Regions from separate parts of the Homo sapiens genome. Here region 1 is linked to region 2. Evidence: fine-mapped expression QTL. A gene starts in region 2. The other region holds a variant in brackets. All regions are shown on one strand. Distances are between the middles of the regions.

Region 1 (5,377 bases), 50 kb after region 2:
TATATAAATAAACTTTAATTCTACAGCACATGATAATATGCTAAACTAAGACAATACATGGCCAAATAGACAACTTTTAAACAATTTTAGTGATTTGTCATTAACAAACTGTTAAATTTTGCAAGTTCCCTTTTTTTCAGCTGCCAGATCAGGTAAATTTATAAGAACTTCAACCAAGAAAATCAGCTACTTGCTGTTTACAAGAGCTATGGGTAAAACAAACTAAAAATAAAGCCCTTGAAATAAAAAGATGTAAAAAATACACCAGACAGCCTAAGAAAAATAACTCAGAGTGAAAACATTAGGGAATTTCATATTCATTAACCTTATAAGTAATCAGGAAAATAGAAGTTAAAGCAACAATGAGCTATCAAACAAACAAAATTTAAAAGTATTAATATCCATTATTTGATATTACAAAATGTTATTGAAAGATGTATGTATTTACTGCTGGTGAGTGTGTGAAACTGTGTAGCCTTTCTAAAAAACAATGTGTAGTATCTGTTACATTTTATTTTTCTTTTCTTTTTTTTTTTTTTTTAAGAGACAGGGTCTTGCTCTGTCACCCCTCCAGGAGTGCAGTGGTGTGATCATAGCTCACTGCAGCTTTGAACTCTCGGGCTCAAGCAATCCTCCCACCTCAGCCTCCAAAGCAGCTGGGACCACAGGTGTGTGCCACCACACCCAGCCAAGTTTTTAGACGTAGGGTCTTACTATGTTGCCCAGGCTGGTTTCCAACTCCTGGCTTTAAGTGATCCTTCCACCTTGGCCTCTCAAAGTGCTGGGATTACAGGTGTGAGCCACTGCTCCCGGCCTCTGTTAAATTTTAAACCCCACACCCTTTGACCCAACAATTTCACTACTAAGTATTAAGCCTACACACATCTTTGCTATATAATATTATACCATGCAGTATTTTTTAAAGCAAAGGAAGATCTCTATGTAATAACACAGAGGGATCTCCAAAACACAATGTTAAGTGAAAAAGCAAGCAGCAGAGCAATACATACCACACGAACCCTTTTATTTTTAAAGTCAGAAAACTAAATGATGTATCTACATCTTCTTATTTACGTTCATACCTATACATCACAAAAAAAGGTGAAGAAAGATTTGCATTAAACTGATGACAGTGGCTTCCTCTTAGAACTGCGGTAGGATTCAAAATTTGGGATAAGGGGGTAATTTAAAATGTTTTCCTCTACGCCTTGCTATACTTTGATTTTCTTAAAAATAAAATACACATATATCATCTGTACAACTTAAAAATTAAAAATTAAAAGGGCTGGGCCCACTGGCTCCCACCTGTGATCTTAGCACTTTGGGAGGCCAAGGCAGGAGAATTGCTTGTGGCCAGGAGTTTGAGACCAGCGCGGGCAACAAAGCAAGACTCCATCTACAAAAAAAAAATTTTTTTAATAGCTGGGCATGGTGGTACATGCCTGTAGTCCCAGCTTCTCAGGAAGCTGAGGTGGGAGGCTCGCTTGAGGCCAGGAGTTTGAGGCAGCTTAGGAGTTCGAGGTTGCAGTGAACTAAGAAGGTGCCATTGCACTCCAGCCTGAGTGACAGGGTGAAGCCCCACCTCTCAATAAAATAAAATAAACTCTTTTTCTTGTTTTGTAATGTTATTGGTAACTTCTTTACTGAGATATAATTCCCACACCATACAATTCACCCATTTTAAGTGTACAATTTAATGATTTTTTTGTATATTCACAGAGTTGTGCAACTATCAGTACAATTTTAGAACATTTTCTTCACTCTCCAAACCAGCTGTGTCCCCTTTAGCTATCATGTGCCACCCCCAATCACCCCCTCCTCACAGCCCTAGGCAGCCATTAATCTCCTCTATGTCTCCATAGATTTGCATGTTCAGGACACTTCATATAAATGGACTCATAGACTGTGTCATCTTTTGTAACTGTCTCTGCCACTTTGCATAATATGTTCAAGGTCCATCTGTGTGGTAGCACATATCAGCATGTTATTCCTTTTCACAGCTAAGTAATATTCCATCATGTGGATATACCACATTTTGTTTATCCTTTCAGCAGTGGGTGAGCATTTAGATTGGTTCCACCTTTTACCTGTTATTAATAATACTAC[T/C]ATAAGTATTCATGTATGAGATTGTGTGTGGACATATGATATGGTTTGACTGTGTCCCCACCCAAATCACATCTTGAATTGTAGGTCCCATGATTCCCACGTGTTGTGGGAGGGACTCAGGAGATAACTGAATCATGGATGCAGGTCTTTCCCGTGCTGTTCTCGTGATAATGAGTAAGTCTCACGCGATCTGATGGTTTTATAGAGGAGAGTTTCCCTGCAAGAGCCCTCTCTTCCCTGCCAGCATGTAAGACATGCCTTTTGCCTTCTGTCATGATTATGAAGCCTCCCCAGCCACGTAGAACTGTGAGTCCATTAAACCTCTTCTTTTCTTTATAAATTACCCAGTCTCAGGTATGTCTTTATCAGCAGCATGAAAACAGACTAATACAACATATTTTCATTTCTCTTGCCTATATACCTAGGCATGGAATTGCTGGGTCAAATGGCAGCTCTTTTTGAGAAATTGCCAGAGTGCTTTCCTAAGTGGCCACACCATTTTACATCCCCACCAGCAGGGTATGAGGGTATCAGTCTCCCCACGCTAACACTTACTAGCCGTCTTTTTTATTACAGGCTTCCTAGTGGCTGTGAAGTGAGTAGCCCATTGTGTTTTTACTTGCATTTCCTTGAGGAATAATGATGTTGAGCGCCCTTTCATGTGCTTATTGGCCAGGTGTAGAACTTTTTTGGAGAAATGTTTATTCAAATCCTTTGTCCACTTTTTTTTTTTTTTTTTTTTTTTTTTGAGACGGAGTCTCGCTGTGTCACCCCAGGCTGGAGTACAGTGGCGCAGCCTCGGCTCACTGCAAGCTCCGCCTCCCGGGTTCACGCCATTCTCCTGCCTCAGCCTCTCCGAGTAGCTGGGACTACAGGCGCCTGCCACCACGCCCGGCTAATTTTTTTTTATTTTTAGTAGAGACGGGGTTTCACCGTGGTCTCGATCTCCTGACCTCGTGATCCACCCGCCTCGGCCTCCCAAAGTGCTGGGATTACAAGCGTGAGCCACCGCGCCCGGCCTTTGTCCACTTTTTAATTGGGATAATTTTATTCTTGGGTTGTAAGAGTTCTTTATGTATTCTAGATATAAGTCCCTTATTAGAGGTACAATTTGCACGTATTTTCTGCCATTGTTTAGTCGTTTCACTTTCTTGTTTGTTTTGTTTTGTTTTTTGTTTTTGAGACAGCATCTCCCTCTGTCACCCATGCTGGAGTGCAGTGGCACAATCATGGCTCCCTGCAGCTTCAAACTCCTAGGCTCAAGTGATTCTCCCACATTAGCTCCAGGGTAGTTGGGACTATAGGTATGCACCACACACCTGGCTAATTTTTTTTTTTTTGAGAGACAGGGTCTTGCTATGTTGTCCAGGCTGGTCTCAAACTCTCAGCCTCAAGCAGTCCTTCCACCTCAGCCCCCCCAAAGTGCTGGGACTACAGCATGGGCCACCAAGCCTAGCCAACTTTCTTATTAGTGTCATTTGAAGCATACAAATTTTTAATTTTGATGAAGTCCAATTTATCTATATTTATTTTGTTGCTTATGCTTTGGGTGTCATATCTGAGAAACCATTTTGCCTAACCAAGGTCATAAAGAATTACTTATTTGTTTTCTTCTAAGAATCTCATAGTTTTTGCTCTTACATTTAGGTCTTTGATCCATTTTGAATTAATTTTTGTATATGGTGTGAGGTAGGGGTCCAGCTTCATTCTTTCACATATAGATATCCAGTTGTCCCAGCACCATATATTGAAGAGACTATTTTTTTCTGCCACTGAATGCTTTTGGCACCCTTGTTGAAAAATCAATTTACCATTAATATATGGATTTATTTCTGGACTCTCAATTCTTTTCCATTGATCTATATGTCTAACCTCATGCCAGTACCACACTGTCTTGAATACCTTTGCTTTGTAGTAAGTTTTGGAATCAGGAAGTTTAAGTCCTCCAAACATTTTTCTTCTATTCAAGATTATGTTGGCTATTTTAAGTCCCTTGATTTTCACATGAATTTTAGGATCAGCAGTGTGTCCATTTCTATTACATAAAGAAACCAGTTGAGATTCTTATAGGGATTGCATTGAATAAAATAAACTTTTTAAATGGTAGATATCATTATGTCAATATTGTTTTATGGAAATGGGAATAAAGTATCGTGTCACTAAGTGGTTTCATGAGACTAAACTTGCAGGAGTTAATAGATGTCAATGTCTCTCATCACTTAGATCCAGAATTGCAAAATTCTCATTATTTTGCTTACTATGTACCTTTATTTTTCTTTCTTTCCTTTTTTTTTTTTTTTTTTTGAGATGGAGTTTCACTCTTGTCACCCAGGCTGGAGTGCAAAGGCATGATCTCGGCTGACTGCAACCTCTGCCTCTTGAGGTTCAAGTGATGATTCTCCTGCCTCAGCCTCCTGAGTGGCTGGGATTACAGGCATGCACCACCATGTCTGGCTAATTTTTGTATTTTTAGTAGAGGCGGAGTTTCACCATGTTGGCTGGGCTGGTCTCAAACTCCTGACCTCAGGTGATCCACTTGGCTTGGCCTCCCAAAGTGCTGGAGTTACAGGCATGAGCCACTGTGCCTGGTCCCTACATACCTTTCAAAACCACACTTGTTTTTTCTCCATCTCTGCTCTACTTTCCTGGTTTAGGCCCCCAGCATTTCTAATCTGCATTACTACAGCATCTCCCAGAAGTTACTCTGCCTTCACTCTGGTCTCCTCTAAACCATTCTCTAAGCTGCAGTCAGAATTGTCTCTCTAAAGCCCAGAGAAAATCCTGTATCCTCCCTTTGAAAAACACATTAGTGACTATCCATGACTGTCAAGATAAAGTTCAAATGAGCACACTGATAAGCCCCTTCCACATCTGGCTTCTACTTGTCTGTTGCTCATCTCCCATTCCTCCTCAGTAATACCAACCCAATCCTATATTTCAGACTTGCCAAAAAACTGCAGGACCAGAACACATCAGGCAATTTCATGCCTCCCTGTGCTGGCACACATATGACCTTTGCCTGGAATGCCCTCCCTTACCACCTTTCTGAAAAATTCTTAGTCATCTTTTAAGACTTGGCTCAAATATTATTTTCACTCTTTTGATGATGATGATGATGATGGCAGAATACACATTTGGTGTTAAAATTTAAACCATATGAAGTATAAAATTGAAATTTAAAAAAAAGTCTTCCACCCTCAACCTCCAGTCACACCCTTTTTTTCTGTCCATTTTTACTTTATGTGTTTTGGGGCTCTGTTATTAGGTATAT
Region 2 (5,377 bases):
CAGGGACACTGGTCTCTGGTCTAGCCTGCTTCCTCCAACCTCTGTCTCCAGAGCAATTGAACACTCAAACCTGAGTGAGTCATTCTCCTGGTGAAAATTCATCTCTGGCTCCAGTCTACAGGATCAAATCCAAGGTCCTGACCCTCTCTCCTCCCTCACACCACATCTTGACAGTACTAAACCACTATCTGTATCCTAAATGGTCTGTGCTTTCTCTTTTCTTTGGGCATCTGGGAAAATTTGTTCCCTAGGTCTGTCAACTCCAGCCGCATCGTGTCTCCCTGCAGATCTTCACAAGCATCTAGCGCAGGGTCCATGAGGAAGGGGACGTCCCCTTTCTGGGAGTACAGAAGTGGGTCACTGGAGCATTAGAAGAACATCAACATCATCTTTCTAACCCAATCCTTTTGAAGTGATTTACAACACACAAAACAAATAGACTATTTGTAAATGAACATCCATTAGGAGGTCATGCTCATTTTTGTCTTTTTTTTACTGATAGAGCTAGAAAGCCACAAACGCAGGAGGCCAGTGTACCTATCAATATAACAACCCATGGAACCAACCCTCCCAAGAACGCACAATACAGCTGGAATCGTGGCTACCTGTATTTACCATTACTGTGACCAAGTGAGGCAATCTTAGACCACGAGACCAAATTCAGCCCCACGAGGTCCTATTTGTCTTTACCAGGGGCTCAGCACATAGTGTTTAATTTCCCAGGGATGAAACCATCTCTCCAAGATCAGACAGCCTTGCAGACAGACATGATGTGATCTTGAGAATTTAAAGGATATTCTCAATGAAGTTTTGTTTCCATCTACTTTTTTTAAAAGCAGGTATTAAAAATAACTGAACCAGCCAAGTGTGCCCACCAAAAGCAGGAATCAAGAAGCTGAAATATGCTTCAGCTCCCTTGTACCCTGTAATTATTTAGCCTTGTTTACAGCAACTTTTTCCAGAAGCAGAATCGACCTTATGAACAGCTTATCCCAAATACTACTCAAGGGCTAACAGATGACCACATCTTAAATATCAAGAGCTTCTAGGTGTAGAATGTCTTCGTAAAGCAAGCCCTTATAGGATTTTCTTTTAAAATTTTCTCTGGGAGTCACATTTCTTTGGGAGAAGTCTGCCTTAAGTGACAACCTATTCATATAAGCAGTCAATTCTGACACAACTACCAATTTTGGTGTCACCCATCAACATTGAGACCTTTCTAAATCTTATACATTTCAGGATGCCAGATTACAGTATAAACTTCAAACAAGAGGAAAACCCAACACGTAAACCTGCGGAAGAGAAGCAACACACCAGCTGCCCTGGAAAACACTCTCCTCCCCCCGCGACACATGCATTTCCATCCTTCGCATCTGGTCACCTCCGCTGGCTGTCGGCCCTGCTCCGCTCCCTCCAACTATGCCTGCGAAGTGCTTCATTTCTTCTCTATTCGACCCGTAGGTGTTGCGTGTTCTTCTAAACTACGTTCAACAGTAAAGTGCAGGACATTCCAACAGCTCCACAAAGAAGCAAAATATTATCTCTGCAAAGTCATGCATTTAAAAACCAGTTGCTTTCCCTATTTTATTGATCAGTCTTTGAACTTCTGAACAGATTTTCGATCACCGCAAGCTGAGCCCTTCTAGAAGATCAGGATTCTAAAGCTCGACTCGGTCCACCTTCTGCTATTCTGGGAACACCCTTCATCCCCAGGGGCCAATGCGAGCCTGGCGGGTCACAGCGCCCGTTTCACCGAGAGGGGGCCGGGCTCCGCAGGGGGCATTCCCCGGCCGTTCGCGCGCTCCCGGCCCGCCGCGAGGGGCGCCCCGGGCAGCGCGGGGGTCGACGGGCGGCGCCGCAGCGCTGGGCCGCGGCCAGGAATGAGCTCAGCGTCCCCGCCGGGTGTTGCCGGCAGGTTGCATCAGACGCCGCGCGGCGCCGCCGCCCGCGCCTCCAGCCTCGCGTGGCCTTCCCGGGCCAGCGGGCCGTCTGGGGCCGGGGCTGGGTTTCCCCGAGCCGGGCCCGCACCCAGTCGAGCGGCCGGCGTCGCCGCGGCCTCCTCCTCCCCGTTCTCAGGGCGCCCGCCGCAGCCTCCTTACCTGCTCCTCTAGCCCGCCTGCCCCCAGGCGGCCTCCACTCCGAGCGGCCCCGCGCGGTGCGGCCCGAGCCGACCCAGGCCTCACAGCCCGCGAGTCAGCGAGGAGGAGCGACGGTTACGAAACCGGCAGCCTCCGCCCGTTCCGCAGCCGCGGCCACCGGCTTCCCCTGCTCGCCGGGGCCGCGCGCGCCGCCGCCGCCATCCCGGCCAATGGGAGCGCCGGCCTGCCGGAGGCACCGCCTTCTCTCGCGACGGGCAGCCCAGTCGACCAATCGTGGGCAGGCTGGCGGCGGGAGGCGGGCCCACGGTGGGGGAGTGGGTTCCGCGCGGCTGGCTCGGCGGGTGTGGCGGGAGCAGGGAGCTGCTTGCTGCGGCGTCCGCGGTCCCTAGGCAGCTCGCCCGGGCTGGCGGCGGCCTAGTGCTGTGGACGACTCAAGTTCGAGTCGGAGGCTGAAAAGCCGTCACCTTGTGGAGGCCAGACGTGCCTTTGGAAGCATTTTCTGAGGTGGTTTTGTGAACCACCGGCGACTGTTTTGGTTTCGCCGCGTCCCTTGGAAGCCCCCGCGGCGTCCCTCACAGAGTTTCTGCGAACGGAACGCCCCGCAGGCGGGCGGGCTTTGTCGCCGCAAAAAGAGTGGAGGCTGACGCGGTGGCTCCCGCCTATAATCTCAGCGCCGAGGGAGGCCGAGGCGGGAGAATGGCTTGAGCCCAGGCGTTGGAGAACCAGCCTGGACAACATAGCGAGACCCCATCTCAGTTACTAATTTTTAAAAAATCGAATGAACCCAGATGTTTCACACATAGGATTAGCATTGATGTCACATGGGTGAAATCCATGTGCTGCAGGCTGTGCTTTGTTGTTAGGGTGAGATGAAGTGAATTTCTTAAAATGATTCTCTTTGGGTGCCTTCCAGGTGCATGGGTGCGAGGTGATCTCTGAAAATAAGCAGCGATCCAGTGTGACTTAAAACTCGCCAGGAGAACCCGAAAGCGTTTTTTTTTTTTTTTTTTTTGAGACGGAGTCTCGCTCTGTCGCCCAGGCTGGAGTGCAGTGGCGCAATCTCGGCTCACTGCAAGCTCCGCCTCCCGGGTTCACGCCATTCTCCTGCCTCAGCCTCCCAAGTAGCTGGGACTACAGGCGCCCGCCACTACGCCCGGCTAATTTTTTGTATTTTTTTAGTAGAGACGGGGTTTCACCGTTTTAGCCGGGATGGTCTCGATCTTCTGACCTCGTGATCCGCCCGCCTCGGCCTCCCAAAGTGCTGGGATTACAGGCGTGAGCCACCGCGCCTGGCCCCGAAAGCGTTTTAACACCAGGAAGCAGCAGCTCGCTGGGCGGAGGGCAGAACTCGCCTGATAGGTTTAATTGCTTCCTCTTTAGCAACGCGTATCGTTCAAACAATTGAGGCTTTGAAAGAGGAAATGTTTCTTCAGCGCCCATGGAACCGGCTCGCCCCGTAAGATTGTTTCGAGGAATCAGTAAGATGATAAAGCAATAAATAAAAATTAAAAGGGGTCACAACGGTGAACAATGGGCTGGGCGCGGTGGCTCAGGTCTGTAATCCCAGCACTCTGCGAGGCCGAGGCAGGCTGATCACTTCAGGTCGGGAATTAGAGACCAGCCTGGGCAACATGGAAAAACCCCATCTCTACCAAAAATACAGAAGATTAGCCGGGTGTGGTGGCGCTGTGCCTGTGGTCCCAGCTACTCTGGAGTCTGAGATGGGAGGATGGCTTGAGCCTGAGAGGCGGAGGTTGCAGTGAGCTGAGATTGAGCCACTGCACTCCAGCCTGAGCCACAGAATGAGATCCCTGTCTCCAAAAAAAAAAAAACAGGTAATAATGCTCACAGATGCACACTTAGGAGAATAAGTGTCATTGAAACAAGTGTGTTTCTTCACGTTGGCTCTCAGTATTCTCAGCTTAAATTTCTTTTCTTCTTTTTTTTTGAGACGATCTTGCTGTGTTGCCCCAGCTGGAGTGCAATGGCACTGCCACAGCTTGATCACAGCTCACTGCAGCCTCGACTTCCTGGGCTCAAGCCATCCTCCCACCTCAGCCTCCCAAGTAGGTGGGATTACAGGCATGCACCACCACACCTAGCTAATTTTTTAAAAATGTTTTGTAGAGACAAGGTCTCACCATATTGTCCACTCTGGTCTCAAACTCCTGGGCTCAAGTGATCTTTCTGTCTCGGCCTCCCAGATTGCTGGGATTAAGGGTGTGAGTAACCAAGTCCTGCCTGAACTTGCTTTGATCAAGATTTTAGTACTATTAAAATAGGATTGTGATTTATTGCTCACAAAATCATAATTTTACCCTGAATATTTCCTAATCACTTAAAAAATGTGTAAGGGGGCCAGACACAGTGGCTCACGCCTGTAATCCCAGCACTTTGGGAGGCCGAGGCAGGCGGATCACCTGAGGTCAGGAGTTTGAGACCACCCTGGCCAACATGGTGGAACCCTGTCTCTACTAAAAATATAAAAATTAGCCAGGCGTGGTGGCGGGTGCCTGTAATCCCAGCCACTCGGGAGCCTGAGGCAGAAGAATTGCTTGAACTCGGGAGGCAAATGTTGGCAGTGAGCTGAGATCACGCCACTGCACTCCAGCCTGGGTGACAGCAAGACTCCATCTCAAAAATAAAAAAATAAAAATAAAAAAGGAAAGAAAAGAAAAAAGAAAAATGTGTAAGGGGAAAAAAAAGAACTTGCATAGGTATATTCAGTTATCCTTTGGTTTGCAAACCGCCCTGCCAAGCTGTTCCAGCATTCTTTGTATCTGTGTCTGGGCAGGCCTTCTTACACACCCAGCAAGTCTAGTCAGTGCCCAGGACACTCGGGTATTTATTTTCTTTTCAGCTGGTAGCTGGTAGTTTTTCTTCTACTCAGTTTACAAGTATGCATTTGGTGCCAACTATGTACTAAGCCGTAGGCTAAGTGTTGGAGATTCAGCAATGAGCAAGACAAACACACAGTCACTGCCCACATGGAACTTACACTTACAGCCAGGCAGACAGGCGTTTGGTAATTACACAATTTTTCTTTCTGTCACCTATGCTGGAGTGCAGTGGGGCAAGCATGGCTCACTGCAGCCTGGACCTCCTGGGCTCAGGTGATCCTCCCACCTCAGCCTCCCAAGCAACTGGGACTACAAGGCATGCGCCACCATGCTTGGCTAATTTTTGTATTTTTTGTAGCAATAGGGTTTCACCATGTTGCCCAGGCTGGTTTCGAACAGCTGAGGTCAAGTGATGCACCCACCTCGGCCTTTTAAAGT

What was found. PIP is the estimated chance that this variant, and not a neighbour inherited with it, causes the effect.
Region 1: its variant is the best candidate, but not a certain one, in a credible set for the expression of CEBPG in sun-exposed skin (GTEx, PIP 0.59).

What each region holds. Positions count from the first base shown.
Region 1 is chr19:33,320,218-33,325,594 of GRCh38, reverse strand. No RefSeq gene overlaps it. Among named protein-coding and RNA genes, the nearest start is that of CEBPA-DT, 20 kb to the right of the region's middle. The variant T/C (reference allele first, on the strand shown) is at 2,107.
Region 2 is chr19:33,370,618-33,375,994 of GRCh38, reverse strand. It overlaps CEBPG (CCAAT enhancer binding protein gamma), which reads right to left and starts at 2,286. Exons shown (of 2, transcript NM_001806.4): 1 at 2,100-2,286. RefSeq lists a silencer at 1,690-2,499.